Homo sapiens: one gene and its partner. The protein of the gene in region 2 purifies or fractionates together with the protein of the main gene of each other region. This does not show direct contact. Each region holds a gene or a part of one and is shown on either strand. Other genes may lie near its edges. The genes, in order: RSAD1 and RTCA.

What was found.
Region 1: the proteins of RTCA (region 2) and RSAD1 purify together in Homo sapiens (co-immunoprecipitation; 2 studies listed by BioGRID and IntAct, with this or other methods). This does not show direct contact.

Annotation. Positions count from the first base shown.
Region 1 is NC_000017.11:50,471,320-50,486,189, forward strand, and holds RSAD1 (radical S-adenosyl methionine domain-containing protein 1, mitochondrial precursor), read left to right. Parts: upstream 1-7,540; 5' UTR 7,541-7,565; coding exon 7,566-7,700; intron 7,701-8,309; coding exon 8,310-8,443; intron 8,444-8,560; coding exon 8,561-8,765; intron 8,766-10,771; coding exon 10,772-11,137; intron 11,138-11,323; coding exon 11,324-11,387; intron 11,388-12,020; coding exon 12,021-12,168; intron 12,169-12,386; coding exon 12,387-12,441; intron 12,442-13,122; coding exon 13,123-13,226; exon of another isoform or gene 13,227-13,323; intron 13,324-13,424; coding exon 13,425-13,542; 3' UTR 13,543-14,655; downstream 14,656-14,870. Other genes in the region: ACSF2 (medium-chain acyl-CoA ligase ACSF2, mitochondrial), read left to right, coding at 1,109-1,260, 2,346-2,487, 2,575-2,685, 2,880-2,948, 3,183-3,233.
Region 2 is NC_000001.11:100,267,228-100,284,118, reverse strand, and holds part of RTCA (RNA 3'-terminal phosphate cyclase), read right to left. Parts: intron 16,620-16,891; coding exon of another isoform or gene 16,581-16,619; intron 15,968-16,580; coding exon 15,824-15,967; intron 13,563-15,823; coding exon 13,439-13,562; intron 10,726-13,438; coding exon 10,667-10,725; intron 9,296-10,666; coding exon 9,154-9,295; intron 8,521-9,153; coding exon 8,396-8,520; intron 6,862-8,395; coding exon 6,803-6,861; intron 2,879-6,802; exon of another isoform or gene 2,811-2,878; intron 1-2,810.

The DNA of each region.
Region 1 (14,870 bases), on a different chromosome or scaffold from region 2:
GGAAGAGCTGGAACAGTGGCTGTGAGCGGCTGCCAGCTGAACTTCTCCGCGGCCTCCCTTCCTGTCTGAGGTGTGTTTTTGCCAAGCCCACTGTCTGTTTCAGGGCAGCCAGGGTAGCCTCAAAGAGGAGCCAGAGCACAGAGAGTTTTCCTACACAGCTTCTTTTCCTCCAGTGGTGCTCGCCTCTCGCTTTAGCAGAGTTCTTCTTCTTGCTTGGCGTAAACACTTCATTTCCCAAGCAGCCTATCCCTTTGGGGCGGTCCCTTTGCCCCTCAAAGGTTGCCCCAGAGTGCACCTGAATCTCAAATGCCCAGCCATGCCTCCTTTCCTGCTCCAACACTGGGGCTGTGCCAGCTGGCTCCTGATTTCCCCTGCACCCTTCTGCTCCCGCCCCTGGGGGATCGCTGCCCCCGTGCACAAGCAGCTGCTTCCCCTGGGGCTGACCGCTGTCCTGGCGTGAATCTGCCCTGCCCTCCCGCCAGAGCAACCATGTACCCAGGGATTGAGTAGGGATGTGAGCCTCCTCCCGTGTGTGCTACAGCTGCACTGCCACTGTCACTAAGATGCCCACCTGGAAGGGAAACAGGGGCAGGCATCACTCACCCCATTTCACGGACACAGACACTGAGGCACACAGAGGCTCAGCTTTCCTTGGCACGGTGGCCGTGGCTCTTTTCTCTACCAGGCTTTCAGACTCTGTCTCTCCTGTTCACATGGTGTTGCCATGCCACCCTGTTTGGCTTATTTGCTGCTTAATGGGAAGTAAGAGGAGACTCCCTTCTCCTCTGCACGGTTTATAATTCTTCAGCTGGCTCTGCAGTCCACAAACCTCTTTCTTTGCAGCAGCTGCCTGCCCACTCTGTTTCCTCAGCCCTCCCAGCCTGGGACTCAGCTCTTCTTTCATGCCCAGCTCAGGTCTCTCACTGGCTTTGGGTCGACTCTAGCCTTTGTCTCCCTTCTCTGGATGGGGATAAGCAGAGCCAGGGGGCCTCATTCCAGGCAGTTGGGTTGGGGGGTTGGGGGCAGGCAAAGCTCTCTCCATTTCCAAGGACCACCTATCCTGAAGCAAGAGGATAGGAAGCCCCAACCTGAGGCCATCCTGTCCCAGGCCCGGATCATGAACATGGAGGCAGGGACGCTGGCAAAGCTGAACACGCCCGGGGAGCTGTGCATCCGAGGGTACTGCGTCATGCTGGGCTACTGGGGTGAGCCTCAGAAGACAGAGGAAGCAGTGGATCAGGACAAGTGGTATTGGACAGGGTGAGAAGGCAGGGCGGGGTGGAGGCTCTGGCCGCTGAGGGGAGGCTGGAGGTCTTGAGGCTGAGCCGGGAACATTAACCTGGCACCGTGAGGATGTGGGTATCAAGATGACCCCTCACATGCTGGAGTCTTAATTTCCAAAATGTATACGGTGGGGATGATCATACATAGCACAGAAGAAAGCAACTGGGTCATCACCCTACACCAGCAGCTGCAAAATCTGAGTCCAGATTCAGTCACTCATTTGTTAGCTCAGCAAATTCTTACTAGAATTCCTTATGTGCTAGCACCGTTCTCGCCGCTAGAGGTCCAGAGGAAAGTAAGATGAGAAGGATCCTGCTTTTTGGAGGAAGACAGATGATGCCCAACATCGATAAATAACACCAAGAAAATAGGCCAGGCGCGGTGACTCACACCTGTAATCTCAGCAGTTTGGGAGGCCGAGGCGGGTGGATCACCTGAAGTCAGAAGTTTGAGACCAGCCTGGCCAACACAGTGAAACCCCACCTCTACTAAAAATACAAAAATTAGCCGGACGTGGTGGCGGCACGTGCCTGTAGTCCCAGCTACTCGGAGGCTGAGGCAGGAGAATCGCTGTAACCCAGGAGATGGAGGTTGCAGTGAACCGAGATCGCGCCACTGCACTCAAGACTGGGCGACAGAGCAGGACTCCATCTCAAAAACAAACAAGCAAATGAACAAACAAAAAACACTAAGAAAATGAAATAGGGTTATAGGAGAGAAAGTGGCTGTGGTGGGGAGGGGAGCTTCCCTTAGATTGAGTGGACAGAGAAGATGTCTGGAGACATTTGAGCTGAGACCTGGAAAGAAGCCAGTCGTGAAAAGCTATGTATAGATGTGTTGAGAGAGACAGAATATGTTATAGGTATTGTTTTGTTTTTGTCTACCTCCCCTCCCCTTACTGGACTATTAATTCCAGAGACTGTGTCTTGTTCCTGCTATGTCTCCCAGAGTCTAGAGCAGTGGAAGACACATAGTAGCTGGTCAATAAATGTTTCACGACTGAGCAAGCAAGTGAGTGAACAAGGCAGAGATGACAGGTTGCCCCTGGGCTTTCCTTACAGAGATGTCGCCACAATGAATGAGCAGGGCTTCTGCAAGATCGTGGGCCGCTCTAAGGATATGATCATCCGGGGTGGTGAGAACATCTACCCCGCAGAGCTCGAGGACTTCTTTCACACACACCCGAAGGTGCAGGAAGTGCAGGTGAGGCACTTGGCTCAGGTGAGCCCCCAGAAACAAGAAACACACATGAACACGGTGATGTCTGATATTTTTCTTTGGCCCTGGAAGGTGGTGGGAGTGAAGGACGATCGGATGGGGGAAGAGATTTGTGCCTGCATTCGGCTGAAGGACGGGGAGGAGACCACGGTGGAGGAGATAAAAGCTTTCTGCAAAGGGAAGGTGGGAGCCTCCGCTCAACCTAGCTGATGCTGCTCTGTTCTTTGCTCACCCACTCCTCTGCCAACCAGCCCAGGGTGGGGATTGCTCTGCCCTTGACGAAGCTGACTCCTGGCCAGGCCAGCCCCTGGTCCCCTACCCATACCCCTGTGAGCTTGCGCAGCCTCACGCCTTACCTCCCTCCCTCTGGTCTGCAGATCTCTCACTTCAAGATTCCGAAGTACATCGTGTTTGTCACAAACTACCCCCTCACCATTTCAGGAAAGGTGTGTAAGGTGGAGGAGGCTGGGGAGGGCAGCCTGGGCTCTGGGGCCCCATAGGGCCCCACCTCTGTTTCCTTCAGCAATGGGTGTGGAGAGACTGGCAGTAGGGTGACCGGGTCACCTAATCCTGGTTTGCCTGGGGACTTTCCCTGTTTTGGCACTAAGAGCCTGAGAAACCCCTTATTCTTGGGTGAACCAAGACAGCTGGTAACCCTAACTCCATTTTCTTTCCTCTAGATCCAGAAATTCAAACTTCGAGAGCAGATGGAACGACATCTAAATCTGTGAATAAAGCAGCAGGCCTGTCCTGGCCGGTTGGCTTGACTCTCTCCTGTCAGAATGCAACCTGGCTTTATGCACCTAGATGTCCCCAGCACCCAGTTCTGAGCCAGGCACATCAAATGTCAAGGAATTGACTGAACGAACTAAGAGCTCCTGGATGGGTCCGGGAACTCGCCTGGGCACAAGGTGCCAAAAGGCAGGCAGCCTGCCCAGGCCCTCCCTCCTGTCCATCCCCCACATTCCCCTGTCTGTCCTTGTGATTTGGCATAAAGAGCTTCTGTTTTCTTTGGCTTCTTGCTGGTGGGCTCTCTTGGCAGCTACTACAGGATGGAGAAGGGAAGACACTGAGGGGAACTAGCACTTTCAGACGTCCTATTCCTTGTCATTGAGAGTGCAGAGCACCTTGATGTGGATTATCTACTTAATTTAACCCTCACCCTTGGTATCCCTTTGAGATACCAACCCATTTTTGTTGTTGTTCTTGTTTTTTGAGACAGAGTCTTGCCCTGTCACCCAGGCTGGAGTGTAGTCATGCGATCTCAGCTCACTGCAACCTCTGCCTCCCTAATTCAAGTGATTCTCCTTCCTCACCCTCCCAAGTAACTGGGATTGCAGATACCCACCACCACACCCAACTAACTTTTGTATTTTTAGTAGAGGCGAGGTTTTACCATGTTGGCCAGGCTGGTCCTCAAACTCCTGACCTCAAGCAATCCGCCTGCCTCAGCCTACCAAAGTGCTGGGATTACAGGCATGAACCACTGCGCCTGGCCCCAATTTTTTATTTTTAAGCTACTCTAATTTAATTCTTTTTCACATTGTTGCCAGATTAGTCTAGCAAGAAGTATTCTTTTTATATATGTATAACAGCTTGATTGAGATGTAATTCACATACTCTCCAGTTCACTCCCACCTCCCCCATTTTCTAGAGACAGGATCTCATTCCGTCACCCGTGCTGGAGTGCAGTGACTCACTGTAGCGACATGATCATAGCTCACTGCAGCCTCGAACTCCTGGGCTCAAGCAGTCCTCCCACCTCAGCCTCCTGAGTAGCTGGGACTGTAGGAATGTGCCACCATGTCTTAACTAATTTTTAAACATAGACACAGGATCTTGCTATGTTGCCTAGGCTGGTCTAGAACTCATGGGCTCAAGCAATCCTCCTGCCTCAGTCTCTCAAAGTGCTGGGACAATCTACCATTTAAAGTATAGAATTCAGTGGTCTTTAGTATATTCACAAATATGTGTAACTATCACCACAGTCAATTTTAAATATTGTCATCACCTAAGAAAGAAACCCCATACTCTTTAACTATTATCTCCCATCTCCCAGCCCCCTTCCTCCCCAACCAACCTCATTTTTAGTTTTTATTTGTTTTGATTGGTGAACCTGGGGCATCCCTCGTAGGCAGGGCCAGATAAAGCAGGTTGTACCTTGACCCAAGAAATAAAAACAGCTGGGTTCCAAAAGGCACATAGATTCCCAGTTCACAGGAATGGAAACTTGCCTCCTGCCTGCCCCCTTACCTCCCAGCGCGCCTGCCCCCTTACCTCCCAGCGCGCCTGCCCCCTTACCTCCCAGCGCGCCTGCCCCCTTACCTCGCAGCGCGCCTGCCCCCTTACCTCGCAGCGCTCCTGCCCCCTTACCTCCCAGCGCGCCTGCCCCCTTACCTCGCAGCGCGCCTGCCCCCTTACCTCGCAGCGCGCCTGCCCCCTTACCTCCCAGCGCGCCTGCCCCCTTACCTCGCAGCGCGCCTGCCCCCTTACCTCCCAGCGCGCCTGCCCCCTTACCTCGCAGCGCGCCTGCCCCCTTACCTCGCAGCGTGCCTGCCCCCTTACCTCCCAGCGTGCCTGCCCAAGGCAGCAGCAGCCTCCTCTTGACTTTTTAAGAAATGAACATAGGTTTAAGGTATTTTCAGTACCAGGCTCTGTGCTAGGTACTTTCACATTATTTTCTCTCCAAATCTTCCCAACAATCCTTTCAAGTAGCCATTGGTCCCACTTCACCAATGACCCAACAGAAACTCAGGGAGGTTCCGTATCTTGCTCAAGGTCACACAGCTGGATCAGAACCCAGCTGTCTGTTAGGCAGGTTCACTGCACACTAGTTACCAACTTGTCAGAGTCCAGTGAGGCAAACACCCACAAGTTACATAACGCTGAGTCCAGCGAGGCAAACACAAGTGACATGCAACGTGTTTATTACCTATAGGTAGGCACTAAGGGACAACAGAAGGCTGGGATTCATTTGGAGCTGGACCCCTACGGCTCAGGAAAGCTGCTGAGGCAGCTGGGGGATGGACCGTTGTCTGTGCATGCCTGACTTTTTTTTTTGTTGTTGGTTTGTTGTGAGATGGAGTCTCGCTCTTTCACCCGGGCTGGAGTGCAGTGGTGTGAACCCTGGGATTCAAGCAATTTTCCTGCCTCAGCCTCCCTGGTAGCTGGGATTACAGGCGTGCACTACCACGTCCAGCTATTTTTTTTTTTTTTAGTAGAAACAGTTTCGCCATGTTGGCCAGGCTGGTCTTGAACTTCTGACCTCAGGTGATCCACCCGCCTCGGCCTCCCAAAGTGTTGTGATAACAGGCATGGGCCACCACGCCCAGCCAGCCAGACTTGTACTGAAGCTGAGGGACCCCAGAAACCAGCCCGCCCTGTTTTTCGTTTGTTTGTTTGTTTGTTTGATACAGAGTCTCACTCTGTCTCCCAGGCTGGAGTGCAGTGTCGCCATCTGGGCTCACTGCAACTTCCGCCTCCCAGGTTCAAGCAATTCTCCTGCCTCAGCCTCCCGGGTAGCTGGGACTACTGGCACGCACCACCACACCTGGCTAGTTTTTTGTATTTTTAGTAAAAACGGGGTTTCACCGTGTTAGCCAGGATGGTCTCAATCTCCTGACCTTATGATCCGCCCGCATCGGCCTCCCAAAGTGCTGGGATTACAGGAGTAAGCCACCGCGCCCGGCTTCTGCCCTGGGCTTTATACCCTGGGGCCATGTGACATGTTGGGCTGAAGTGTTGAAGGACATGCTTTTTCTAGGGGGACTGGAACAGAGCATGGCTGTGCTGGCCAGTCCTTCCTTCCCTCAGGATGTTGCATTCTCTGCACACTCTACAGTTTTATTTATTTATTTATTGAGACAGTCTTGCTCCATCACCCAGGCTGGAGTGCAGTGGCACTGTCTCAGCTCACTGCAACCTCCGCCTCCCAGGTTCGAGGGATTCTCCCTGCTCAGCCTCCCGTGTAGCTGGGATTACAGGTGCCCACCACCACGCTTGGATAATTTTTGTATTTTTGGTAAAGACGGGGTTTCAGCATGTTGGCTAGGCTGGTCTTGAACTTCTGATCTCAAGTGATCTGCCCGCCTCGGCCTCCCAAAGTGCTGGGATTACAGGCGTCTACAGTTATTCTTGAGAACTACAAGCAAGAAAGGAGGGGAGAACCAGGTCAGTTCAAGGCCACTGGGAGAACTGTCCTGCACCGCCTGCCTCTGAAGCCCATGATGTTTCTGCTTTGTGGGACAGTTGTTCAGGTGCCTGCTTCCCCAGGCCTTCCCCTGCGCCTTCCCCCTCTCTCCTACACACACCATCTGACTGTCCTTCCAGCACGTACACCTCCAGATGCTTGGGTTGGCCTGACCCAAAACAGTCTACTCTCCCGGCCAAGCCAATTGCCCCTGGGATTTTCTGCTCCTCCAAGATCCCGTGCATAGCCCTGGTGGTGGCTCATGCCCTTAATCCTTAGTTACTCTAGATGCTGAGGCAGGAGGATCGCTTGAGGCCGAGGAGTTCAAGACCTCCCCTCTCCCAAATATTTGTAAATGAAATTAAAAGAAAGATCCAGCCCAAGTGTCTCTTCTGCCCTACTGACTCCCACACTCTTAAAACAGATGACCTCACAGCACTGAGGCGGACGGCTCTGGTGTCCAGCAGGCACGGAATTAATACGCCTTGCCTGTCCTGGCCGGTTGGCTTGCCTCTCTCCTGCCAGAATGCAACCTGGCTTTATGCACCTAGATGTCCCCAGCGCCCAGTTCTGAGCCAGGCACATCAAATGTCAAGGAATTGACTGAACAAACTAAGAGCTCCTGGATGGGTCCGGGAACTCGCCCGGGCACAAGGTGCCAAAAGGCAAGCAGCCCGCCTCGCGGCCTGGGGAAAGAACCGACAGGAGGCCGCAGTGAGCGCCCGGGCGCCCGGCAGGTGGCGCCGCAGCCCCGGGCCCGGGCCCTCTTGTCGCGCGGTCACGCAGCCCCTCTTCCTTCCGCCGGCTGCGCACTCACAGTGATCCCTGCGCGCGTCTCCTGCTCGGGTCAGTGCGCCGCGCTGCGCTGGGCGCCATGGCGCTCCCCGGAGCCCGGGCTCGCGGCTGGGCGGCAGCAGCCAGAGCGGCCCAGAGGCGCCGCCGCGTGGAGAACGCAGGAGGGTCCCCGAGTCCTGAGCCTGCGGGCCGGCGCGCGGCGCTTTACGTACACGTGAGTAGGGGCGGGGGCGGAGCCCACGGTGTGTGGCCGCAGCCCTGGCCGTGACCGTGGCCGTCCAAAACCCAGGTGGCGGTTTGTCACTCTATGAACCCGCCTGCCGTGTTTCCGTGCCCCCGTACGAGGTCTGGGATGGGACCCTGTGCTTTGGCAGGGAAATGACTTGGTCCAGAAACCTGAAGTCTCTGCTACTCACCGGCTCGGTGACTCTGACCAAATGGTTCAAATTTCATAACAATTTTCCTCTTAGCAAGACAAAATTTTCTTAAGAGCAGTGTTCTGACTCGGTAGCTGGGAAAATGGCTCATAGGAAAATTGTATGAAAATTATATGATCCCAGAAAGAGCTTGGGTTGAATTCCTTCCTGACGTCTGCTGGTTGGAAGAGGCAGCGTAACAAAGGAGTGAGCCTCAGTTTTCTCACATTGAAGTGGATGTAATAACCCCAGTGCGACCTGCCTTGGGGAGTTGTGTGGCTTAGATGTCCTAGCTACTGTGGAAAGACCTCGGGATAGGGGTGGGGGTGGGGTTGGGGGTGTGTGCGACTGAACCCTGGAAGTGGCCAGGGCAGCTCTCACCGCGCACGTGCACTCACTGCCCCCAGTGGCCTTACTGCGAGAAGCGCTGCAGTTACTGCAACTTCAACAAGTACATCCCTCGCCGCCTGGAGGAGGCTGCCATGCAGAAGTGTCTGGTGACCGAAGCTCAGACGCTGCTGCGGCTCAGCGGGGTGCAACGGTGGGTAGTGGGGGCTGTAGGCAGCGTTTTGGGAAATATTTGGAGGAGTGGTGGGGGATAGGTGCAGGCATCCCAGAGGGCTCCCCCAGGTCTCATTTCTCCATTCTCTTTCCCCAGGGTGGAGTCTGTGTTCTTTGGTGGGGGGACCCCCAGTCTAGCCAGTCCCCACACGGTGGCTGCTGTCCTGGAGGCTGTGGCACAGGCAGCCCACCTGCCTGCAGACTTGGAAGTCACATTGGAGGCTAATCCTACTTCAGCTCCGGGCTCCAGACTGGCAGAGTTCGGGGCAGCAGGGGTTAACAGGTTGTCTATAGGCCTCCAGGTAACCCATGGCACTCACCCCATCCCAGTGCACCCCGCCCTTCAGTGCCATCTCCTCTTTGGTCACATTCATTCATTGGGCAAACATTGATTGAGCACCTTCTGGGTGCCAGGGACACAGTAGGGCCTAGTGCGACACTTTTATAACTCCTTAATTGTCTGCTGCTGTCATAGACCACAGACTTTATGAGAAAGGGATCAGGTGTGGCTTTTCTATTTCAAACACTTACCATAGTGCCTGGCACATAGTAGGTGGTCAAAAAAGATTTGCTACATGACACGGGAGACGCAGACATGTAGCCAGATTATTGCAGCATGGTAAATGTCACCTGTAAAGGGGGTCTCTATAAAAGGCTTCTAGAGTACAGCCTGAAGGGAGGTCACTCTGATGAAATCACTGAAACTTCTCTGGAGGAGATGTTTGAATGAAGAGGAAGAGTTCACCAGGTGAGGGGGTGTGGGGGAAACGACACAGGCCATGGAAGAGCCTGGCATGTTTTGGGGGAGTTGTGAGTCATTCCTTGTGATTGGAGAGGCTGGAAACAAGGTTGCAAGGTAGAGTCCAAAACCTTTGGTGCCTACTAAGGAGTGTGGGTTTTGTCCTAGTAATGATAGGGAGCCATTGAAGGTTTTTAAGTAGGGAGAAACCTAGTCGTCTCAGGTTGACCTCCGATATTTCCGTAGGACTTCCGGGTTGTGGGCTTTGTTCTGATGGAATATGCTGACAGAAACACATCACTTCTAAGATATTCTTACCCCAAAGCGCATATCTTGAATCTAATTGTCAGGAAACCCTGAATTAAGAGATTTTTACAAAATTATTGTGGTAAGAACAGACAGCATGAGATCTACCGTCTTAACAAGTTTTTAAATGTACATACAGCACTGTTAACTATAAGCACAGTGTTATACAGCCAATCTGTAGAAATTATTCATTTTAAATAATTCATTTAAATAATTATAATTCGTAAATAATAATAATTTATTTAAATTCATTAAATTATTCATTTTAAACAACTGGCCTGTATTCTTCAAAAATGCCAGTGTCATGAGAGACAAAGAAAGGCTGAGAATCTAAAGGAGACAGAAGAGACAGCTGAATACAATGTGTGGCCCCTGACTGGGGAGGAAGGAGGAAATTACTACAGTAGATGTTATTGGGACCATTAGCCAAATTTGAATATGACAATGTATTATGTAATGGTGTTGTGTCAGTGTTGCATTTCCTGAACTCTGTAATTGGATTGCAGTTATGTAAGAGAATGTCCTTGTTCTTTAGGAAATACACACCTAAGTATTTAGAGGTTAGGGAGTATAATATCTATAACTGCTATTCAATATAGTGGCCACTAGCCACAGACTAGTGAGCATTTGAAATGTGGTAAGTTAAGTTTAATTCACTTAAATTTAAATAACCACATGTGGCTACTACCTATCATATTGGACAGTACAGATATGAACATTTCCACCATTGTAGAAAGTTCTTTTGGACAGTGCTGGTTTATAATTTACTGTTAAATGATTCAGCATAATAACAGGTATGTATGTTTAAAGAGAAACAAATATGGACAAATGGTGAATCAAGATGAAGGTTTTTTTTGTGATTTTCTTTCAACTTTTCTATAGGTTAGAATTATTTAAAATTGAAAAGTAAAGTAAATAAAGACTTGATTTTGGAGTCAGACAGTCCTAAATTCCAGGTCGAACTTTGCAACTGTATGGCCTGGACAAGTTACTTAACACCTCTGAACCTCAGTTTTCTCATCTGTAAAATAGAACTAATATTGGAGGGTTACAAAGATTAAATTAGACACTACATAAAGGTGCTTGGCACATAGCGACCCTTCTGTGAATGGCAGCTCTTGGTGCCAGCTTGACCTTCCCCCTCCTGCCTTCCAGCTGCCTGCCACGTGCTGCGTTCTCCCTGTATCTGTGTCTACAATGGGGAGGAGGGTTCTTGTCTCTCTCTGAGCTGCTGGTATGCTTACACCCACCCTCTTTTCCCAGTCCCTAGATGACACTGAGCTCCGGCTGTTGGGACGGACGCACTCGGCCTGCGATGCTCTGCGGACGCTGGCAGAGGCCCGGCGCCTCTTTCCCGGGCGCGTGTCTGTAGACTTGATGCTGGGGCTGCCGGCACAGCAGGTGGGGCCGTGGCTTGGGCAGCTGCAGGAACTGCTGCACCACTGTGATGACCACCTCTCCCTCTACCAGCTGTCCCTGGAGCGGGGCACCGCACTCTTCGCCCAGGTGCAGCGGGGTGCCCTTCCAGCCCCTGACCCGGAGCTCGCAGCTGAGATGTACCAGAGGGGCCGGGCTGTCCTTCGGGAGGCTGGCTTCCACCAGTATGAGGTCTCCAACTTTGCCCGGAATGTAAGTTCTGGGGCTGATGGCTGGAGGTGGAGGATGGGCAGACTGCAGTGTGACCAGGGCGTTGTGACCTTCTGAAGAGAAGGATCCTGGCCGAGATGGTGGGACATTCTAACCTGGGGCCCCTTACCTGAGTCTAAAAATGAGGCCTGCCCTCTTCACTCTGCACTATTTCCTCCCTCCCCGCAGGGGGCGCTCAGTACCCACAATTGGACTTACTGGCAGTGTGGTCAGTACCTTGGCGTTGGGCCTGGTGAGTCCCGTGAACTACAGAAAGGGTGACTCAGGAGAGGAATGTCGTGGCTGTGTGAACTTGGGCCACATTAACCTCTCCAAGCCTCTATTTTCTCATATGTAAAATGTGGCAAAAAATAATACCTCCCTATAGAACTGTTGAGCATGAATTATAAGGGGCTTAATGTTGCACCTTGCACTAGGGTTCTCAGCCTTTAGTGTGTATGAGAATCTCCTGGAGGGCTTGTTAAAACCCAAGCTGCTGGGCCCCACCCTCAGAATTCCCAATTGGACAGGGCTAGAGGAGAGCCCAAGAATTTATATGTCTTGGCATTTTGGGATAGATGATTAAAAAAAAAAGAAAAAGAAAAAAGGGCCTGGTGTCATGTGCCTCTAATCTGAGCTACTTGGGAAGCTGAGGTGGAAAGATCGTTTGACCCCAGGCGTCCAAGACCAGCCTGGGCAGTATAGTGAGACACCACCTCAAAAAAAAAAAAAAAAAAAAGAAAGAAAGAAAGAAAGAAAAGAAAAGAAAAATAATTTATATTTCCAGTATGTTAGAGGCAGTTGCTCCAGGGACCACATGATTTAAATCTGGTAAACACATAGTATTAACAGCCATTAATGTGGGGATGGTTGTTGATGTTGTCAGGGGCCCATGGACGATTTATGCCCCAGGGGGCTGGAGGCCACACCCGGGAGGCTCGGATCCAGACACTGGAGCCTGACAACTGGATGAAGGAGGTGATGCTGTTTGGCCATGGCACCCGGAAGCGTGTCCCCCTGGGCAGGCTGGAGCTGTGAGCATCCAAGGGCACAGGGCTCTCCTCCAGGATCCCCACACCCCAAGACCATGTCTATTTGTATATCTTTTATTTCCTGTCTTGTCCTGGCCCCTGCCTTGCCACATACTGTATGGTCCCTGTTAGCCTCCTCTAAATGCATCCCAGTGTAGAATTTGGAGAATGGGAGGAGCACAGGCCTCCTCTCTAAGACTCCTTGGTGATTTTTCTTTGAGGCTGGAGGAAGTTTTGGCCCTGGGGCTACGCACCGATGTGGGGATCACTCACCAGGTAAGGAGTTAGGATTCTTGCACACCACTCCCTCCTAAAGTCTTGCAGAATCAATGCCCCCTCCCTGCCACCCCCCCCACACACATATACCTCCAATTTCTGTGAGATTGGCAGCTAGAAGTGGGGCCCAGGTCCAGCTGAGGCCTGATGGGCAGAAGCAGTGAGCAGTGGTGCATAGCTAAGAACCCTAGACCAGGGCTGCAGAGACCCAAGTTCCAGCCCTCATTTTACTGCAACCTTGGACACAAATCCTTTCACCTCTCTTAACCTCAATTTTCTGAGCTCTGTGAAGCAATAGATAGATAAAGGGTTTCCACTTGTTTTTAGGGAGCACTGAAACCTCTCATAGGAAGCACAGTAGATAATTATCAAGCAAATCCAGAGCTGCTCTGGATAAAGCAGAGCCATAAAGCCCTGGCTAGAGCTGGCTGAGAGGGGAGGGAAGAGAGGAGGCATAGAGGAAGGCCTGGCTTGGCTGGAAGCTGGGTTCCAGTCTCAGTGGAATAGGAGTGAAGCTGCCCTCCTCCCTGCTGGCCCATTGGCCTGGTTCTGCTTTCATGCATGTCAGCTGCTGAGATCTCCATGCTGAACTGGACCCTCCCCCACCTCTCACCATACCCCAACTATGTGGCCCAGAGTAGCCAGGCCAGCTCCCCACCTCTGACCCTCTGGCTTCCCCAGCACTGGCAGCAGTTTGAGCCCCAGCTGACCCTGTGGGATGTGTTTGGAGCGAACAAGGAGGTGCAGGAGCTGCTGGAGCGGGGCCTACTGCAGCTGGATCACAGGTGTGTTGGGGGGTGCCGGGCAGAGGGGGCTGAGGCATACCAGGGAGCCCTGACTACAGCTCTCCACAGACCCAGGAGAAGTGAGAAAGACTGACTGGTAAGGCGGGACCTGCGGGTGCTGGGAGCTCGGCCCTGCTGGGTGATGGGCTTGAAATTGGTAAGATGAAGTAGTCACCTTCAGGCCTCTTGGTTTTCCAGGGGTCTTCGGTGTTCCTGGGAGGGTCTGGCTGTGCTGGACTCTCTCTTGCTGACCCTCCTGCCTCAGCTCCAAGAAGCCTGGCAGCAGAGAACCCCCTCCCCTGTGCCAGGAGGATGACAAAAATGTTCCTGTGTTCCAGGGTAATGCCAGGTGGGTTTTGAGAGCTGGGTCGGTACTGCAGACATCTCTTCTCCGTTGTCGGGTGCCGTCTCTGCTCCTTGTGGTTATTGCTCAGCCCTGGCATCCCCAGGGGAATGGCAGCAGTGAGGTAGATGGGAGGACATTTCTGGTCAGGGAACTGGCATCCCATTCAGCATCTCAGGACTCACAGGCCAACATGTGTTCCATGGCTGGGAATTGCCTACCACCCACATCAGCTTCTGTTTACCTTTTTGGCATCAAATAATGAACAGTGTTTGGAAATCTTTCTACAGGCAATTACCTCCCCAAGAGAAGCCTTCCTTATTTTGGAGTAAGGTCCTAAGATAGCTGGATGAATCAGGAAAACCATGTCCCCTCTAGGTATTATTAATATAAGCAGGAAGGGATCTACTATAGGAATGAAGTATTTATAAACCACTGAAAGGGATAGAGAAGTGAACATTGGAGAAAGCCAGTAGCAACTGTGAGAAATCAGCAACTTGCAGGAGGCACAGAAAACTCCTGCTGATGGTCTCAGCTTCCAGCAGCACAAAAGCAGATGATGTACTGGAAAATGCTCAGAAGATGCTACAAAACCTCATGCCTACTGTCTGCCACTGCTGGAGAAGGAATCATGGTTTCTAGAAGTGCCTCTCATTAGTGGACTTTAAAGCAAATCCTGGCTGGCAGGAAATTCTGAGGAATATAGCTCTTAGGCTTCCAGCCTCTACCATGCAGGAGAGAACACAGAAGGACTGATGTATGTTGGTGGATCCATGTATGTGTCCAGCACAGCGGCCTGCTGGACTCTGAGAACTGGGAAAGATCAGAGCAAGCCTTGCCTCTTATCTTCGGGAAACCAGAATATGTTTGGGGTGGTAGGAGCCACACAGACTCTTCTGAGCCCCCTCACTCACTTCCTTCCCCCTGTGCCTTTCCTTTGAGAGTGAAGGTGGGTGGAGTTGACCAGAGAAAGGGGAGAGAATTCGGGAAAGACCCAAAGTGTTTGTAATTCTTCTTTGTCCTTTTACCTACAGAAATGGTCACATGGTTCTATTTAAATAGCCTAATAAACACATCTGGAGCCTGTCTTGACTGTGGTCCTCTCCTTTGAGCTCCTTCCTAGAGCGTGGAATCCTGATTTTGGGACTAGAACCTTAGCCTAGGGCTGAGATTCCTTCCCCCGCTCCCTACATTTTATTTTGAAGGATTTCAGACCTACAGAAAAGATAAAAGAATAGTTCATTGGAAGCCATATATCCTTTGTCTACTATGTAACTATAAAGTCTGGAAATAGGCAAATA
Region 2 (16,891 bases):
TTGGCTGCAAATGAAAACGTCTTATGAAAAATGAAAATGTGGTTAGTTTTGTTTCTATTTTATATTTGCAAATTTACTTGATTATATATGATAAAATTTTCCCCAAAGTGGAAATTGTAGAATTTTAACTCTATTTTTCTTTGTTTTTCTTGTTTTTTCTTGTTTTTTCTTTTTTTTTTTTTTCTTTTTTTTTTTTAGCGACTAGGTCTCACTACGTTGCCTGGACTGGTCTCAAACTCCTGAACTCAAGTGATCCTCCCGCTTCAGCCTCCCAAAGTGTTAGAATTCCAGGCATGAGCCATCATGCCCAGAAACTCTATTTTTCTTTATAGTAGTCATAATAATATAATAAATTACCCTCTTTATATTATCAATTGGCCAAGTATTTACGTGACTGAATGAAATGGTTTGAAACATGTTTTGTGAATCTTGACTTCTTGTTAGCCACTGCCATTTCCTCTTCTAGAAGATGGAGATGATAATAATTATGCTGCAAAGTTGTTATAGAAATTAGAGATAATATTTATAAAGCATCTATTACCCAGACTAGTACATAAAAAGCTATTAATAATAACACAGGTTGAGTAACCCTTATCTGAAATGCTTGGGACTAGAAGGTTTCAGATTTTGGATTTTTAAAAAATTTTGGAATATTTGAGCCAGGCATGGTGGCTCATGCCTATAATCCCAGCACTTTGGGAGGCCAAGGCGGGCAGATCACTTGAGATGAGGAATTCGAGACCAGACTGGCCAACATGGTGAAATACTAAAAATACAAAAATTAGCCAGGCATGGTTGTGTGCGATTGTAGTTTTAGCTACTCAGGAGGCTGAGGGACAACAATCTCTTGAACTCGGGAGGCGGAGGTTATGGTGAGCTGAGATCGTGCCACTGCACTCCAGCCTGGGTGACACATGAGATTCTGTCTCAAAATTAAAAAAAAAAAAAAAAAAAAAAAGGAATATTTGGATATACATAATGAGATAGCTTGGGGATGCGACCCAAGTCTACACATGAAATTCAGCTAAGCACAGTGGCTCACGCCTGTAATCCCAGCATTTTGGGAGGTGGAGGCAGGCAGATAGCTTGAGTACAGGAGTTCAAGACTAGCCTGGCCAACATGGTGAAACTCTGTCTCTACTAAAATAGCCAGGCATGGTGGCGCACACTAATAATTCCAGCTACTCGGGAGTCTGTGGTGGGAAGCTCTCTAGAGCTCAGGAGGCAGAGGTTGCAGTAAGCCAAGATTGCACCACTCCACTCTAGACTGGGCAAGAGAGTAAGACTCCCATCTCAATAAATAAATAAACAAACCTGAAATTCATTAATGTTCATACATACCTTACACACATAGCTTGAAGGCAACCTTATACAATGTTTTAAATGATTTTGTGCATAAAACAAAGTTTTGTGGCATACTGCCACTTGAAAAGCTTCTGATTTTGGAATATTTCAGATTTTAGATTTTTGGATTAGGAATGCTCAACCTGTAGGAGTATTGCATACCCACTATTTATCTACCATGCTAAGTAATAGAAACCAGATCCTTTGCTAAGGAGGCATTTAAAATACACATATATTAGAAAATTAGAGGATAATTAAGTGCTAACTCTGTGATATAAACTATATACCCGACAGGAGTTCAGAAAAGTAAGAGATTATATAGGTTCTAGAATAATTTGAGGTTTCATAAAGCATGAAGGACTTAAGTGAGTCCTTGAAAAACAGCTAAAATAGGGATGGAGGATGTAAAGGAAAAGGAAAGAACTTCCGGCTTTGTAGTACTAGAAAACAGCAGGTACACTAAAGTTTTCTGCCATGTAGCAAAGAATTCCTCAGAGCCATTCACATTCCTTTCCACCCAGCCACCTTGATAGTAATGGCATGAATGGTTCTACATTACTAACTGCCATTACTAGCAGTCTGTAGCAACTGAACATAATAAGCAAAATATGAGAATCTTGCTTATTAGTATTATACACACCAAAAGCAAAATCTCAATTTCTTCTGAAATCTTAATGCTTTTCTAACTAATTGCCAATCTTCTCACATTTTGGATGTTTTTAAACAAAGGTCTCAAGGACTTGTTTTAGGACATCAGAGAGATGCCATGAGGCCGGCACGGTGGCTCACGCCTGTAATCCCAGCACTTTGGGAGGCAGATTACTTGAGGTCAGGAGTTCGAAACCAGCCTGGCCAACACTGTGAAACCCCGTCTCTACCAAAAATACAAAAATTAGCCGGCATGGTGGCACACACTTGTAATCCCAGCTACTTGGGAGGCTGCGGTGGGAGGATTGCTTGAACACAGGAGGCGGAGGTTGCAGTGAGCCGAGATTGCTCCATTGCACTCTAGCCTGGGCGACAAAGCAAGATTCCGTCTCGAAAAAAAAAAACAAAAACAAAAACAGAGAGATGCCCTGAATTACCACATACACTGAGGGAGGGAAGGAAGGTGCTTGCTATAAGTGAGGCAATTACTATACAAAGGAAATAAAGATTGATTAACCAGAGGCACAATTCATTTCAGCAGATTATTTTGCTCCCATAGTAAAGAATATAACTAACTGTAAGATAAGAGTAATGAAAGATCACACAGATACGCAACAATGGAAAGACAAAACACATTCTGTCTATAATGCAATCACTTAAAGTTGGAAGGGATCCTTAAACATAGATCACAATCACGGTCCAATATCATTTTTCAGATAAGGAAAGCCCAGAGTCACTATGCATGATAATGACAGGACATGGGACTAAAATTTAGGTCTTCTCACTCTCTGTTTAGTGCTCTCTATCATAACACACTGCCTCAGTCTAAAACAGCGAGATTTTCTCAGACAAAACAAAATCTCACCGTTTTAAAATAAAATTGAAGAATGTTATAGTTAGAAGGATTTTGGAGATTCTCCAGGCTAATCTTCTTGCTCAACATATAAGGAAACTAAGATCAAAATGGTTATAGTAACTGAGACAATGATAAAGACATCTCTAGTTACAACTTCCTGCCTCTACCACCTATGGTGGTATTGACAAGCAGCCAATGTTCCTTCTGGTGATAACCCTAAGAAATTAGGATTCAAGGTCTGGTAGTTTTGTTTTATTTTTTTGAGACAGGGTCTTGCTCTATCACCTAGGCTGGAGTGCAGTGGTGTGATCTCAGCTCACTGCAACCTACACCTCCTGGGCTCAAGTGATCCTCCCGCCTCCTGCCTCAGCATTTAGAGTAGCTGGGACTACAAGCACATGCCACCATGCTCAAGTAATTTTTGTATTTTTTGTAGAGACAGGGTTTCGCCATGTTGCCCAGATTGGTCTTGAACACTTGGGTTCAAGTGATCTGCTCACCTTGGCCTCCCAAAGTGCTGGGATTACAGGCATACGCCACCACACCCAGCCCCTAAATCCAGTAATTTTCTAGTTAATTTAAATCAGAAATGAAAGGGGATCTGGATAATAGAGGTCATGACATTCTCTCTGAGATCCTTAATATATAGACAAGCTGGATTGAGAAGACCACAAGTTACTTTTGCATTTGCTAACATCTCATTTGACTGATGTGCATGATAGGAACCAAGGAAGGATACCAGGAGGAGTCAGTCAATCTCAGCAGGCATGTTGCTCTCTCCTCTATTCTCTCCTAACACCCTAAGTCTAAAAATAAGTACTGTGTACTCTACAAGTGTTTTATCCAAAAACTACTTTAAAGTACAAGTTGCTTCATGTGACAAAGTGAGAAAAAAATGCTGACAGAACATTAGAAAATTTTTTTCAGGCCTGGTAAAAAAATTCCATGTATTACTGATAAAGTAATGATCCCTTTACAATCAATCTCAACGCAGCATATCTAAAATTATCATCTACCCTGGCAAACTAACTCTACCCCGTATATTCACAAGAGGTAAATATATCCAGTTACCTAAGCCAGACATCTAGAAGGTCATACTTTACACTGCCTTCCTCACTTCCCATACCCAACTGGCCAGCAAATATTGTCCATTCACCTTTGCAAATACCCTTTTATCAGTATTCACCTCTCTAGCCCAGCATTCCTTGGCACAGGCCCTTACCATTCTGACCTGAATTGTAATGAACTCTTATCTTCCTGCCTCTAATATGGCTTTCTTCTACTTCTCTGAATTATCTTTCAAAAACTCTCATATCACATCCCTCATTAAATGCTCTATATTTCAGGATGAAATGTAAATTCCTAGATATAACCTATAGCCTTTCAGAATCTGGCCTGTCGATATTTCTGTTGTCATCTCTCTCCATTCCCTTACCCAGATCTATTATCCACTTGCAGTTGCTTGCTCAAACACAGAACACTATTTTTTTGGTGACAGGGTCTCACTGTGTCACCCAGACTGGAATGCAGTGGTGCAATCATAGCTCATTGCAGCCTTGAACATCTTAGGATCAAGCAATCCTCCCGCTTCAGCCTCCTGAGCAGCTGGGACTATAGGTGTGAGCCACCATATGGGGCTACTTAAAAAAAAAAAAATTTTAAGAGATGGAATCTTGCCATGTTGGCCAGGCTGTTGTCAAACTCCTGGCTCAAGCAATCATCCTGCTTCAGCCTCCCGAGTAGCTTGGACTAAAGCTGCATGCCACCTCACCCAGAATACTTTTGTATGTCAAATTTCTTTGTCCTTCCTCCTTAGCTCTCACTTTTCTATCCAGCTAACTTCTATTTACCCACAGAACCCACTGGAGGACCATTAAATGGCAGAAGGCAGATTTGGTGTCAATCAGTCCCCAGAAGGATTCCCTTTGCTTCCCCTGTATTCCTATGGTACCCTGGGGATACCACTATCATAGAACTGGTCTGTTTCCTCTGCCAGAATAACCCAGGAGGCAGGAATCATAGCTGTCACTTTTGAATCCCTAGTACACAGTACCTGGCACATTTGGTAACCAGTAATACAAACAAACTCACACTTCTCCCAATGCCTGCTAAGTACTTATTACTTGTAATATGTCTGCTCCTAGTCTCCGTTTTATATTTGTATTCTCTTTGCTTCTAAAGACTGTTGTAGATAGTGCATGCAGTGGCTCAATATCCACACTGATTCCTCACTGCACCTAATATGTAATTAGTATATGCCAAATACATATTTTAGATCACTATTTCTCAAACTTCAGTATACATTAAAAGTACCTGGAAAGTTTGTTAAAATGGATTCCTGGGCCCCACTCCCACAGATTCTAATTCAATACGTCTGAGGTAGGTCCCAAAATCTGTATTTCTAACGAACTCCCAGTTGATGCTGACAAGTTTGCCTGTCTGCCAACCACATTTTGAATAGCACAGTTTTAGACAGAATTCATTTATGTGAGTTCAACTGGAAATGGTGATTTTATTTATTCTCTTGATCAGATTTGATGCCCAACTAGTTCTAGATTTACCAACTGAGCAAACTGAAGAATTCCTAATTTTTTTTGTATTCAGTAGTAATAGTGTGGCTTAACAGCATAGCTAGGGTAAACATTTTTATTTGTTTATTTATTTTGCAAAGACAAAGTCTCACTACATTGCCCAGGATAGTCTTGAACTTCTGGTCTCAGTAATCCTCCCACCTCAGCCTCCCAAAGTGCTAGGATTACAGTTGTGTACCACTGTGCCCAGCTTGGTAAGCATTTTTAAAGATGCTACAAAGTAGGAATAAAGCAATCAATGACCACGCAAACAACTAGAAGTTCACCTAAAAGTTGCCTGATTGGTAAAAGTAACTTTAAATATTAACAAACACATGCATGTATGTATCTTCTCTCTCTAATATACCAAACCTTAAACAAATTTCCCTTTCACAAAAACATTCAAAATTCTGAAATCACCAATGTAATAACTGATGCAGAGAAGAATCATCAATAGATGTTAAAACCACTGGATGAAAGCTGTTATGGGTGCAGGATAACCAGATGGCCTCAAAATATTTTCTTGGATCACTAGTTAATTACAAAGGTAAAAGGAACTTTCATGGCAGACAGATCTGCAGGACACACCTCCTTAACCAAGTGATCACACTCAACCTCACCAATAAAGGAGAAACTAACATCATGTGCCCCCTGCCGTGATACAGTGGAATGTACACAAAATCACCTATGTAGTATTCTTAATAAAAATGTTTAATCTGAATATATCATGAGACAATCAGACAAATTTAAATTGTGGGAAACTCTGTGAGAAAATGGCCTGGACTCTTAAAAATGTCAGTATCATGAAATGAACAACAACAAAAAAGGTAATGGGAGGATTGTGTATTAAAAGAGGGACTAAAGAGACTTGAGAAACAAATGCTATGTGCCCCCCCCCAAAAAAAAAAATTCCACATCGCTCTAAATAATATTTTGGAAACAATTCATTATGTATGAAGCTATCTGGTGTGTCAGAATAAAACAAATTCTTCAGGTGTAAAAATGGTATTATAATTATGTAGTTATTGCTCTTTGGACATATATGCTGCAGTATTCAGGGGTGAGACATGGCACCTGCAACTTATATTGAAATGGCTCAGAAATATACACAACAAACTAAATGTTCATAACTAGTGAATCTAAGAGAAGGTTGTATGGATGACTAGTTGAACTAGTCATTCAACTTTTCCATAGGTTTGAAATTTTCCAAAGTATAAAGGTGGGAGAAAGACTGAAAGTCTGAAAGTGTAATTGACTCTAAAAGAGAATCAATTAACTACATCCTTTTAAACTTTCATCCATCATTCTATAACATTCCAATCCTGATGGATTAAAGAATTCTGCAGTAGCATTGGGAACTATGGACCCCCTTCATTTATCTTACCTCGTTTACCAAGCGATGATCCAGCAAACAAACAGCCAGTGGAGGTCTCAGCAATAATTCTATGCAAGAAAAAAAGTTATTACTACCTTTGCTATAAATGTTCCAAATTTATGCAAATACAACAAAAGAGAACAATGACTATTAAATAGGCAGAACTAAATCTGGGCAACAAATTGCAAAAGTAAAAATTCTTCATATAGAGTGGTATGATTAACATTGTCTATCTTAATCAGACCAGTAGTATCCTTTACCACTTGACCAGGAGAAGTCACACCAGATTCTAATTCACAGGTTAAGAAATGTCTACCATGCCCCCCAACAAGTTAACATGTCATTAGCACTAAGTGGTACCATTTCACAGGCACACAGTACTATAAAGTGTTTCAGAATTATCTTAAATAAAAAGGTCGTTATGCAGAGACTTTGGTATTGTTCTACGGTTTTTAGATAGTGTTATCATAAGTAGAGCAAGCGTTTACTTTAAACCTTTTAATGGAAATTCTGAATGAGAGGATTTGGAACTTAAATATCCAAAAATGGTACTTTTATACTTCAAAAACATCAGTTAAAGAATTTGTACTAATACTTAAATCTATAACTCCTAACTGAATTAACATAATAGTTCTAGTCTGGTTTTTTTTGAGATGGAGTCTCGCTTTGTCGCCAGGCTGGAGTGCAGTGGTGTGATCTCAGCTCACTGCAACATCCGCCTCCCAGGTTCAAGTGATTCTCCTGCCTCAGCCTCCCAAGTAGCTGGGACTACAGGTGTGCACCACCACGCCCAGCTAATTTTTGTATTTTTAGTAGAGACAGGGTTTCACCATGTTGGCCAGGATGATCTTGATCTCTTGACCTTGTGATCTGCCCGCCTCAGCCTCCCAAAGTGCTGGGATTACAGGTGTAAGCCACCGCGCCTGGCCTCTAGTCTGGTTTTAAAAAGCTCTTTGCTATATTTATTTGTGAACTGATTTCACATTTGACGTATTTTATGCAACTGGAAATATTCTCATAGGACTAGCTTTAAAGCCTAACTTCTGATTAAACGTTTAAGTTCACTATATAAGGGAAAGGGATCTTACAAGGTAACAAAAGGCAAGCCATCCTCAGAAAAAATTCAGAATAATTGTCTTAATTTATCATACTGGTGTTTTAGGTAGGAATGTCCTTAAAAATATAAACTGAGGCTGGGCACAGTGGCTCATGCCTGTAATCCCAGCACTTTGGGAGGCCAAGGCAGGTGGATCATGAGGTCAGGAGATCAAGACCACCCTGGCTAACACGGTGAAACCCTGTCTCTACTAAAAATACAAAAAATTAGCTGGGCGTGGTGGTGGGCGCCTGTAGTCCCAGCTACTCAGGAGGCTCAGGCAGAAGAATGGCATGAACCCAGGAGGCGGAGCTTGCAGTGAGCCAAGATCACACCACGGCACTCCAGCCTGGACAACAGAGCGAGACTCCACCTCAATAAATAAATAAATAAATAAATACTTCTTAAAACTATAAACTTAAGCAAGAAACCCTAAAAATCTTTAATTTAATTAGATAACTATTTTAGGGTTCTCAACTAATGTGTAGGAAAAAGTATTGTCTCACATTATTCCATTTCCATTGCCAAATGCTTGGTCTTTAGGTTCTTGAACAGGCTGGATGTTAACATACAAATCCCGGATCTCCTTTCTGATGCATCTAACTGCTGCCGCTGCCATATCTTTTGCTACCTATTTTAGCAAGACAGAAAAATAGAATAAAACAATTACTGATTATTTGGAAAATTGTTTTCAAGACTTCAAAGACACATAAAATAATTGGTAGCTTTTACATGCATTATTTAATAACTTGATTTTCAAGAGAGCACTGAATTTTTAAATATGCTTATGCAAATTAATTTTATTTTTGTTAATTAATGTATCCATTAATACATATATTTCATCTTTTATTTTAGGTTCAGGAGGTACATGTGCAGGTTTGTTACATGGGTAAATTACATGTCGCTGAGATCTGGTATATGAATGATCCCATCACCTAGGTAGTGAACACAGTACCTGATAGTGTTTCAACCCTCAGCCCCCTTCCACCCTCCTCCCATTAGCAGTCCCCAGTGTTCCCATCTTTATGTCCATGTGTATTCAATGCGTAGCTTCCACTTATGAGAACATGTGGTATTTGGTTTTCTGTTCCCACATTAATTTGCTTAGGATAATGGCCTCCAGCTGCAGCCATATTGCCACAAAGGACATTATTTCTTTCCTTAAAAAAATGTTAAGTTCTCTCAATAATTTCAAAATTTAGTTGACATAATATTTATCAAGACACACATATATTTTATTTCTAAGAACATCTAAACAACTTACTTTAAATGGCAAAACACCAGCAACGAAAGCTCTTCCATATATCTTAGTCACACAGCCACGCTCAGTTAAATTTATAGGGTTCAATTGTTTAACTGGTGACATTCGAACAATCACTTCACCACCCCCTTTTGGGTAATATCCCCTATGAAAAGTATAACAAATGCCCACATAAACTGATTGCATGACAAAAACAAAGCTCTATATTACAATAAAATGACATGTCAATGATATCCAAACATGTAATCCATGGAAAGGTCTAAATATTTTAGGTCTGTATTTTGTAAAATTTTATACATTAAAAAACAAAATTTTGTCTGTACTATACAATGTGGTAGCCTTGAGATATGTGAAACTATTAAAATTAAATAAAATTTAAAAATCAGCTCCCCAGCTGCACTAGCCACATTTTAAGTGCTCAATAGTCACATTTGGCTAGTGACTACCATATTGGACAGCATAGATATGGAACATATACCCCAATGCAGAAAGTTCTATTTGACAGGGCTATTGTAGAATATAAGCGCCTTGAGGGCTAGACTTACCTATATTGTTCCTGCTATTTTCCTGTGCCTAAAACAATGTCTGGCACATGGTAGGTCCTCAAATAAATATATGATGAATATTTAAGTAGCAAAACACTTAAAAAGTTTTAATTCAATTAATTGGTGTCATTTATTTTACAGCAGACGGTGAGAAGACAGTACTCCTCCCCTCAAAGAGCTCACCATCTGGTAGGGAGATGGCTCCACACACTGTCTACTAGAATACAGGTCAGGCTATAAGAAAGGCTACAACATAGGTGCAAATATGAATTCTGATTGAGGCACAATCACAGTTCATAAAGAATTATAAGTTTCACGTTGAAAAAAACATAGGATTTCTAACTTTTGGGAGAGCAGGGGAAGAATAACATGAACAAAGACACAAAAGTCCAAAGGCACAAAGCATATTTAAGGAATAACAAGCAAACATATTGTTAGAATACATAACACGTTGAAAGGAGGAGAGGGACGAAGAAGTTAGAAAAGTTAGGGCAAGACTTCAAAGCACTTAAATGCCACACCAAGAAATATGGCCTAGTGATTGTGTGGCAGAAGGGAAGCCTTAAAGAGAAATAACCTGAATGCCCAATGTGTTTCTTAGGAAAACAATTCTGATCACATTGTGGAAGAGAATTCCTTTTATGACCCCTTAGTGTCTAGTCCAGTTGTCTACACACAGTGAGCACTTAAGCTGTGCTGGGGCATGAAATATCACTAGATATGAGGGTACCTCACTGTGAAAATTCCCTTGAAAATATTTTCCCTAGAAATAAATAACCATGATGTGTAGCTGCTCTCGAGTCCCCATGCTCCTGCTATTCATTATTTTTAAGCCACAAAGTACAATTACTTCTTACAAGAGATGCAATGTATTAAGTGGGTACCAGAAAGACAGTTCTCTAAGGGTCTAACTTTTCCACTACTTCTAGCGTAAGTAATAGATCCTAACATTTAAGAAACAAGCAACTTACCTTGTTTTAATGTCACAATTAAATATGAAACCAAATTTTTCAACAATTGGCTTGAAGACCTGAAAAAATCAGTTTTTATCATTAGGTTAATCAGCAATATTCACTAATTTAACAAGTGTATTTATTAAACAAAAGCGCTTTGCTGGCTAGTAACTGGGTGCTATAGGTAAACAGTGTTATAAGAATATGTAGGCTGGTTCCATTTTTTTCAAATAAAAAAACTGATATGTAGCTAAATTTAAAAGTTTGACATTTATTTAATCAGAGCTGTGCAAGTCTATCTAACGAAAAAAATTGGAACTTAGGATATTTGATATCAGTGGTTATTCTACTCCGAAGGCCAATACTTCCTCACGCATCTCAATATAGTACATTTAAGAAATGAGGGGGTATTGGTGAAGAGCATTCCATTCTGTCATCTCAATTTTTTGTACAGTTGAAATCTCATTCCACAGACAATGCTTTAACATTATAAACATAAGCATTTTCCTGACATCATAAAATTATTCCTAAACAAAATCTGAATGACTCCATGGCATCCTAGCCTAATTGACTTAACGGTTCTCCAAGTTTTCATTATTAGATAATGATATATCTTATATAATGATAATTACAGTATATAATGCTCTGTTCAAATACCTTTAACATTTATCTTTAGCTGAACTTTGCAATATTGAATTAGAGGAGTTTCCTTGAAGTCAAATTATTAGGTGAGGAGAGATTAATTTTTATTATACATCCCATCGAACTGACTTTGAAAAGATTATACCATCTATTAGAATGGCAATATTTCAGAGAAAGATGGTGTTTAAGCCTGATGTCTAAGGCAACTCTTTGAGATCTACTCTAGAGATTTACTTATTTCTCTGGGTTGTCTCCTATGTATCCAGGAGGTATACAGGTTATTAACCTTGTTTTGTGTTTTTTTTTAAAGGCAGAAAAAGCTTAACAAATAAAAACCTGAAAATATCAAGTGCTAGGATGGATACAGAACAGCTGGAACCCTCTATTTGATATTTATTTTTATTTTAGAGATGGGGTCTCGCTATGTTACCCAGGCTAGACTCCAGCTTAAGCTCAAGAGATCCTCCCACCTCACCCTACCAAGTATTAAATAGCTGGGACTATAGGCACACACCACTGTGCCCACTTCAGCTGGAACTCTCATATAGTACTGGTAATAATGCAAAATGTAGCCACTTTGGAAGCTAAAATAACCTGGCTATGTATTATAAAGTTAGACATTTGCTTATTATAACAACCCAGCAAGTATTTTCCCAAGAGAAATGAAAATGTACAATCACACAAAAACTTGTATATGAATGTTAACAGTAACTTAATTTATAATTGCCAAAATCTGGAAACACCCAAATGCCCTTCAATAGATGAATGGATATGCAAACTGGTACATCCATATACGAGAACACAACTCAAGTTTTCATTGCAGATACAAGCAACATGGATGAATCTCAAATGTATTATGGAGAGCAAAAAACCCAGACTCAAAGCCTACGTACAGTATTATCCCTTATATGACATTCTGAACAAAAGGCAAAACTATGACAGAAAACAGATCAGCAGTTGCCAGGGGCTGAGGCTCAGGACTGATTACAAAAACGTATAAGGGAATTTTTTAGAGTAACGGAACTATTCTATGTCTTGATTGTGGTAGATGGTTCATAACTGTGAATCATGTCACTGTCAAAAATCACAGAACTGCATGTTAAAAAGGGTGGATTCAATTGAAAAAATTACACTTTAATAAATCTAGAAGAAAAAAGATTATACCACTTTTCTCTCCCACTAGTTATATGAGCATGCCAGTATTTTTTAAATCATTTTTTAAATGTTTGATCCTAGAATGGAAGGGGCTTAATAGAAAAAAAAAGTTTGAGTTTCCCTCCAAATCATAATCCTTGTATTTATAAAATAACACATCACAACTGATATAATTTATATCACACTCGAGGTGTTTTTTGTTTTTTTAAAGACAGCATCTTGCTTTATCACCCAGGATGGAGTGCCAACATAGCTCACTGCAAACTCAACCTCCCAGGCTCAAGTGATCCTCCCACCTCAGCCTCCTGAGTAGCTTGGACAGGTGTGCACCACCATGCCTGGCTAATTTTTCTGTGTGTAGTGTTTTTTGTTTTTTATTTATATTATTTTTTTGTAGAGATGGGATTTCACCATGTTGCCCAGGCTGGTCTTGAACTTCTAAGCTCAAGTGATCTGCCTACCTCAGCCTCCCAGAGTGCTAGGATTACAGGTGTGAGCCACCACACCGGGCCCTACACTTGAGTTTTTTTTTTTAATTCACTATAAACACTATTCCAAGATATAACAACAAACTTAAAGTAAACATAATTCCCCACCCCCTACTGCAATAGACACATTTGGGAGGCTGAGGTGGGAGGATCCTTAGAGCTCAGGAGTTCAAGACCAGCCTAGGCAACATAGTGAGGCATCGACTCTACAAAAAATTTAAAAAAATTGGCTGGGTGTGTGCCTGTAGTCCCAGCTACTCAGGAGGCCAAGACAGGAGGATTGCTTGAGCTCAGGAGGTTGAGTATGCAGTGAGCTGTGATATGCAACTGTACTCCAGCCTTGGCAACAGCACTGTCTCAAAAAAAAAAAGAAAGAAAGAAAGAAAAGACACCATGAAGAGATAAACAAGAAAGTCACAAAAAAACACTCAGGATATATTTAGAGAATGGAGACTCAGAAGCATGTATGAGATCATCTTAGTTTGTCAACAACAAAAGCCCTTACCATCACTGTATAATCGATCTGTGGTGCCATTTCAGCATTAGTTCCACCTTTCAAATGAAGTTCTGATGGAGAAGCAGCAAAGAGAACACACGGCATTGAGACCTGCATCAAGAGGCACACACTCCTAAGGAGAAGGCAGAAGGGGCTTATTTTCATTTTCTTTTCTGCATTTTCTTTTCAAACTCTTAAATAAGCTATATTCTTGTTCATCACTACCAACTAAAGCACAGACAACTGTGAAGGCAGGTATATGCCATTGAGTTTCTAGTTAAAAAACATTTTAGTGTCTGAATAGTAAAATCCTGAATTTTAAAGAAAAACAGTATTTCACCATAGAAAAATAGCTTTAAATGATAACCAAACCTGGGTCTGAATCTTCAACTAAACACATTAGCTGTGTGACCTTGGCTAAGTTCTGATACTTTTCTTTATATTACAAAAAAGTAAAAAAGAAAAAAAATTAAAAATAAAACCTTCTTCAAAAGTTTTACAAAAGAATTCTTGAAACTAGCAGTTTATGAAAATGCTTTCAAAATAGACAAGGTCTGGATATGATTAGTTACTATATAACAAGGTACTGTTCCAGGTATAAAGATATAGTTCCTGTCATTGTGGAGTTCATGATATGATAGAATAATATTTTACGCAGCCATAAAAGAGAATGAGTTCATGTCCTTTGCAGGGACATGGATGAAGCTGGAAACCATCATTCTCAGTAAACTAACATAGGAACAGAAAAGCAAACGCTGCATGTTCTCACTCATAAGTGGCAGTTGAACAATGAGAACACATGGGCACAGGGAGGGGAACATCACACACCAGGGCTTGTCGGGGGGCAGGTGGCAAGGGGAGGGAGAGCACTAGGACAAATACCTAATGCATGCAGGGCTTAAAACCTAGATGACCAGTTGATGGGTGCAGCAAACCACTATGGCACATGTGTACATATGTGACAAACCTGCACATTCTGCACATGTATCCAGAACTTAAAGTATAATAAAATATTTTAATAATTATTAATTTTAATAATAACAAACACTCACAGCTTGGCCGGGCGTGGTGGCTCATGCCTGTATCCCAGCACTTTGGGAGACAGAGGTGGGATGATCACTCGAGCCCAGGAGTTCAAAACCAATCTGGGCAACATAGTGAGACTCCATCTTTACAAAAAATTTAAAAATTAACCAGGCATTGTGGTGCACGCCTGTAGTCTCAGCACTTTAGGAGAATCGCCTGAGCCCAAGAGGTCAAGGCTACAGTGAGCCATGATCATGCCACTGCACTCCAGCCTGGGAGACCAAAAAAAAAAAAAAAAAAGACTGATAGCTAAATATTTCACATGGGAAGTTTTAGTGAAGTAATCCTTGCTTTACTTGCCTGTTTGGTCCTTATAGTCAAATAATGTGAGAAATCACAAGAAATAGTTATGTAACATGATGAATTTCATAAAGTGAAACACTTGGTCATTATCTTTTCTTTTTTTGAGACAGGGGCTCCTTCCATCACCCAGGCTGGAGTGCAGCGGCACAATCTCAGTTCACTGCACCTTCCACCTCCAAGGCTCAAGCCTCAGCTTCTCAAGTAGATGGGACTACCGGCATGTACCACCATGCCCAGCTAATTTTTATTTATATATATAAATATATAAATATATATATATGACGGGGTTTTGCCATGTTGCCCAGGCTGGTCTCAAATTTGTGAGCTCAAGCGATCCACCCACCTCGGCCTCCCAAAGTGCTGGGACTACAGGCGTGAGCCACCGCACCTGGCCTGGTTGTTTTCTAAATGAGCCATTATCTCCCTTCTCCAAAGTTAAGTGAAAGCAATCATATTCATAAGTAGTTTGAAAGGGAATTCGACATAGCCTCTTAGCTATCAAAAGACAGATCTTTATTTAACTCACTTACACAATGATGCTTAAGTATTGAACTGGGAAGTCTCTATCAGTAATAATGAATTTCATTAATTCAATGAATATTTATTGGACAGGTGTGGTGGCTCACACTTATAATCCCAAAACTTTGGGAGGCCAACGTGGGTGGATTGCTTGAGCTTAGGAATTCGAGACCAGCTGAAAAACATGGCGAAACCTTGTCTCTTTAAAAAATACAAAAATTAGCGGGGCATGGTGCTGTGTGCCTATGGTCCCAGCCACGCAGGAGGCTGAGGTGGGAGGACCTGTTGGGCCCAGGAGTTACAGCTTACAGTGAGCAGTGATTGCACCACTGCACCCCCGCCTGGGCAAGAGGGATACCTTGTCTCAAAAAAAAAAAACATAAAAGTAGGGAAACAAGCTCATAGACATTAAGCAACTTGCCCAGAAAGTGGCAAAACCTGGACTTAAACCCAGGTTACTTAAATGGAATGTTAAGTGATACATACCCTGCTGTCTTGGTATCTGCTGTGTGGATTCCACCTTTGATCTTCTCTGGTGTAAAGGTTATTTCTGTTGAGCCAATTTCTGCCCCCTCCAGTTGCCCATCACACAAATCTCGAATCATTTCCAGTCCAGATAAATGTTGAGGCCTTCAGGTCATAATACTGCATCAAAACGTGTGCATTCAGACTGCCTACATCCCCACATTTTATGACAAATTTATAAAACTGCAATGGCAAGAAAACAGCAAGGTCTAACCACAGTAAGTGCCACATCTTCAGTGTCAGCTTCCTTTTGGGTTTTTATGCACCTAGACTACCTGCTAGTATGTATCATTTTAACACTTCCTTGCAGACCAGTTATTTCTGACTATAAATACATACCCTGATATATTGCTGCAAATTAGAAGTGTGCTAAAGAAGAAAACTAATAGTTATTTCAGTGCCACCAGTCTCGCTTGCACTTGACTGAACAATCTATGGTGCCTGTATGGGCTGAACTATGTTCCCCCTAAATTAATATGCTGAGACTGTAACCCTCCGTATCTCAGAATGTGACTATATTTGGAGATAGAGCCTTTAAAGAGATAATTAAGTTAAAATAAGGCCACCATACAATCTTACTGGTGTCCTTATAAAAAAAAAAAAAACTAGAACATACAGAGACGCTAGGGGCAAGGTACACAGAGGAACCACCATGTGAAGAGGCAAAAAGACAGGCCTGGAGCAGATCCTTTTCTCATGGCTCTCAGAGGAAACCAACCTTGTCAGGACCTTGATCTTGGACTTCCAGCCTCCAGAACTGTGAGGAAATAAATTTCTGTTGTTTAAGCTCCACTCTGTGTGTGGCATTTTGTTATGGCAGCCCTAGCAAACTAATACAACACCTACAGCCTAATGAATTGGATTCCCCTGTTGGTGAACTGGAGGGCTGCAAACTATGACAAAGGCAATTAACATTAACATATCAGTAATTGCCTTTTGGTAATTTCAAAACTGTAGACAAAAGACTGAGACCGCTGATTTATTAAAATGTAATAAATACAGAATACATACAAAGCAATCAGTGTGGCT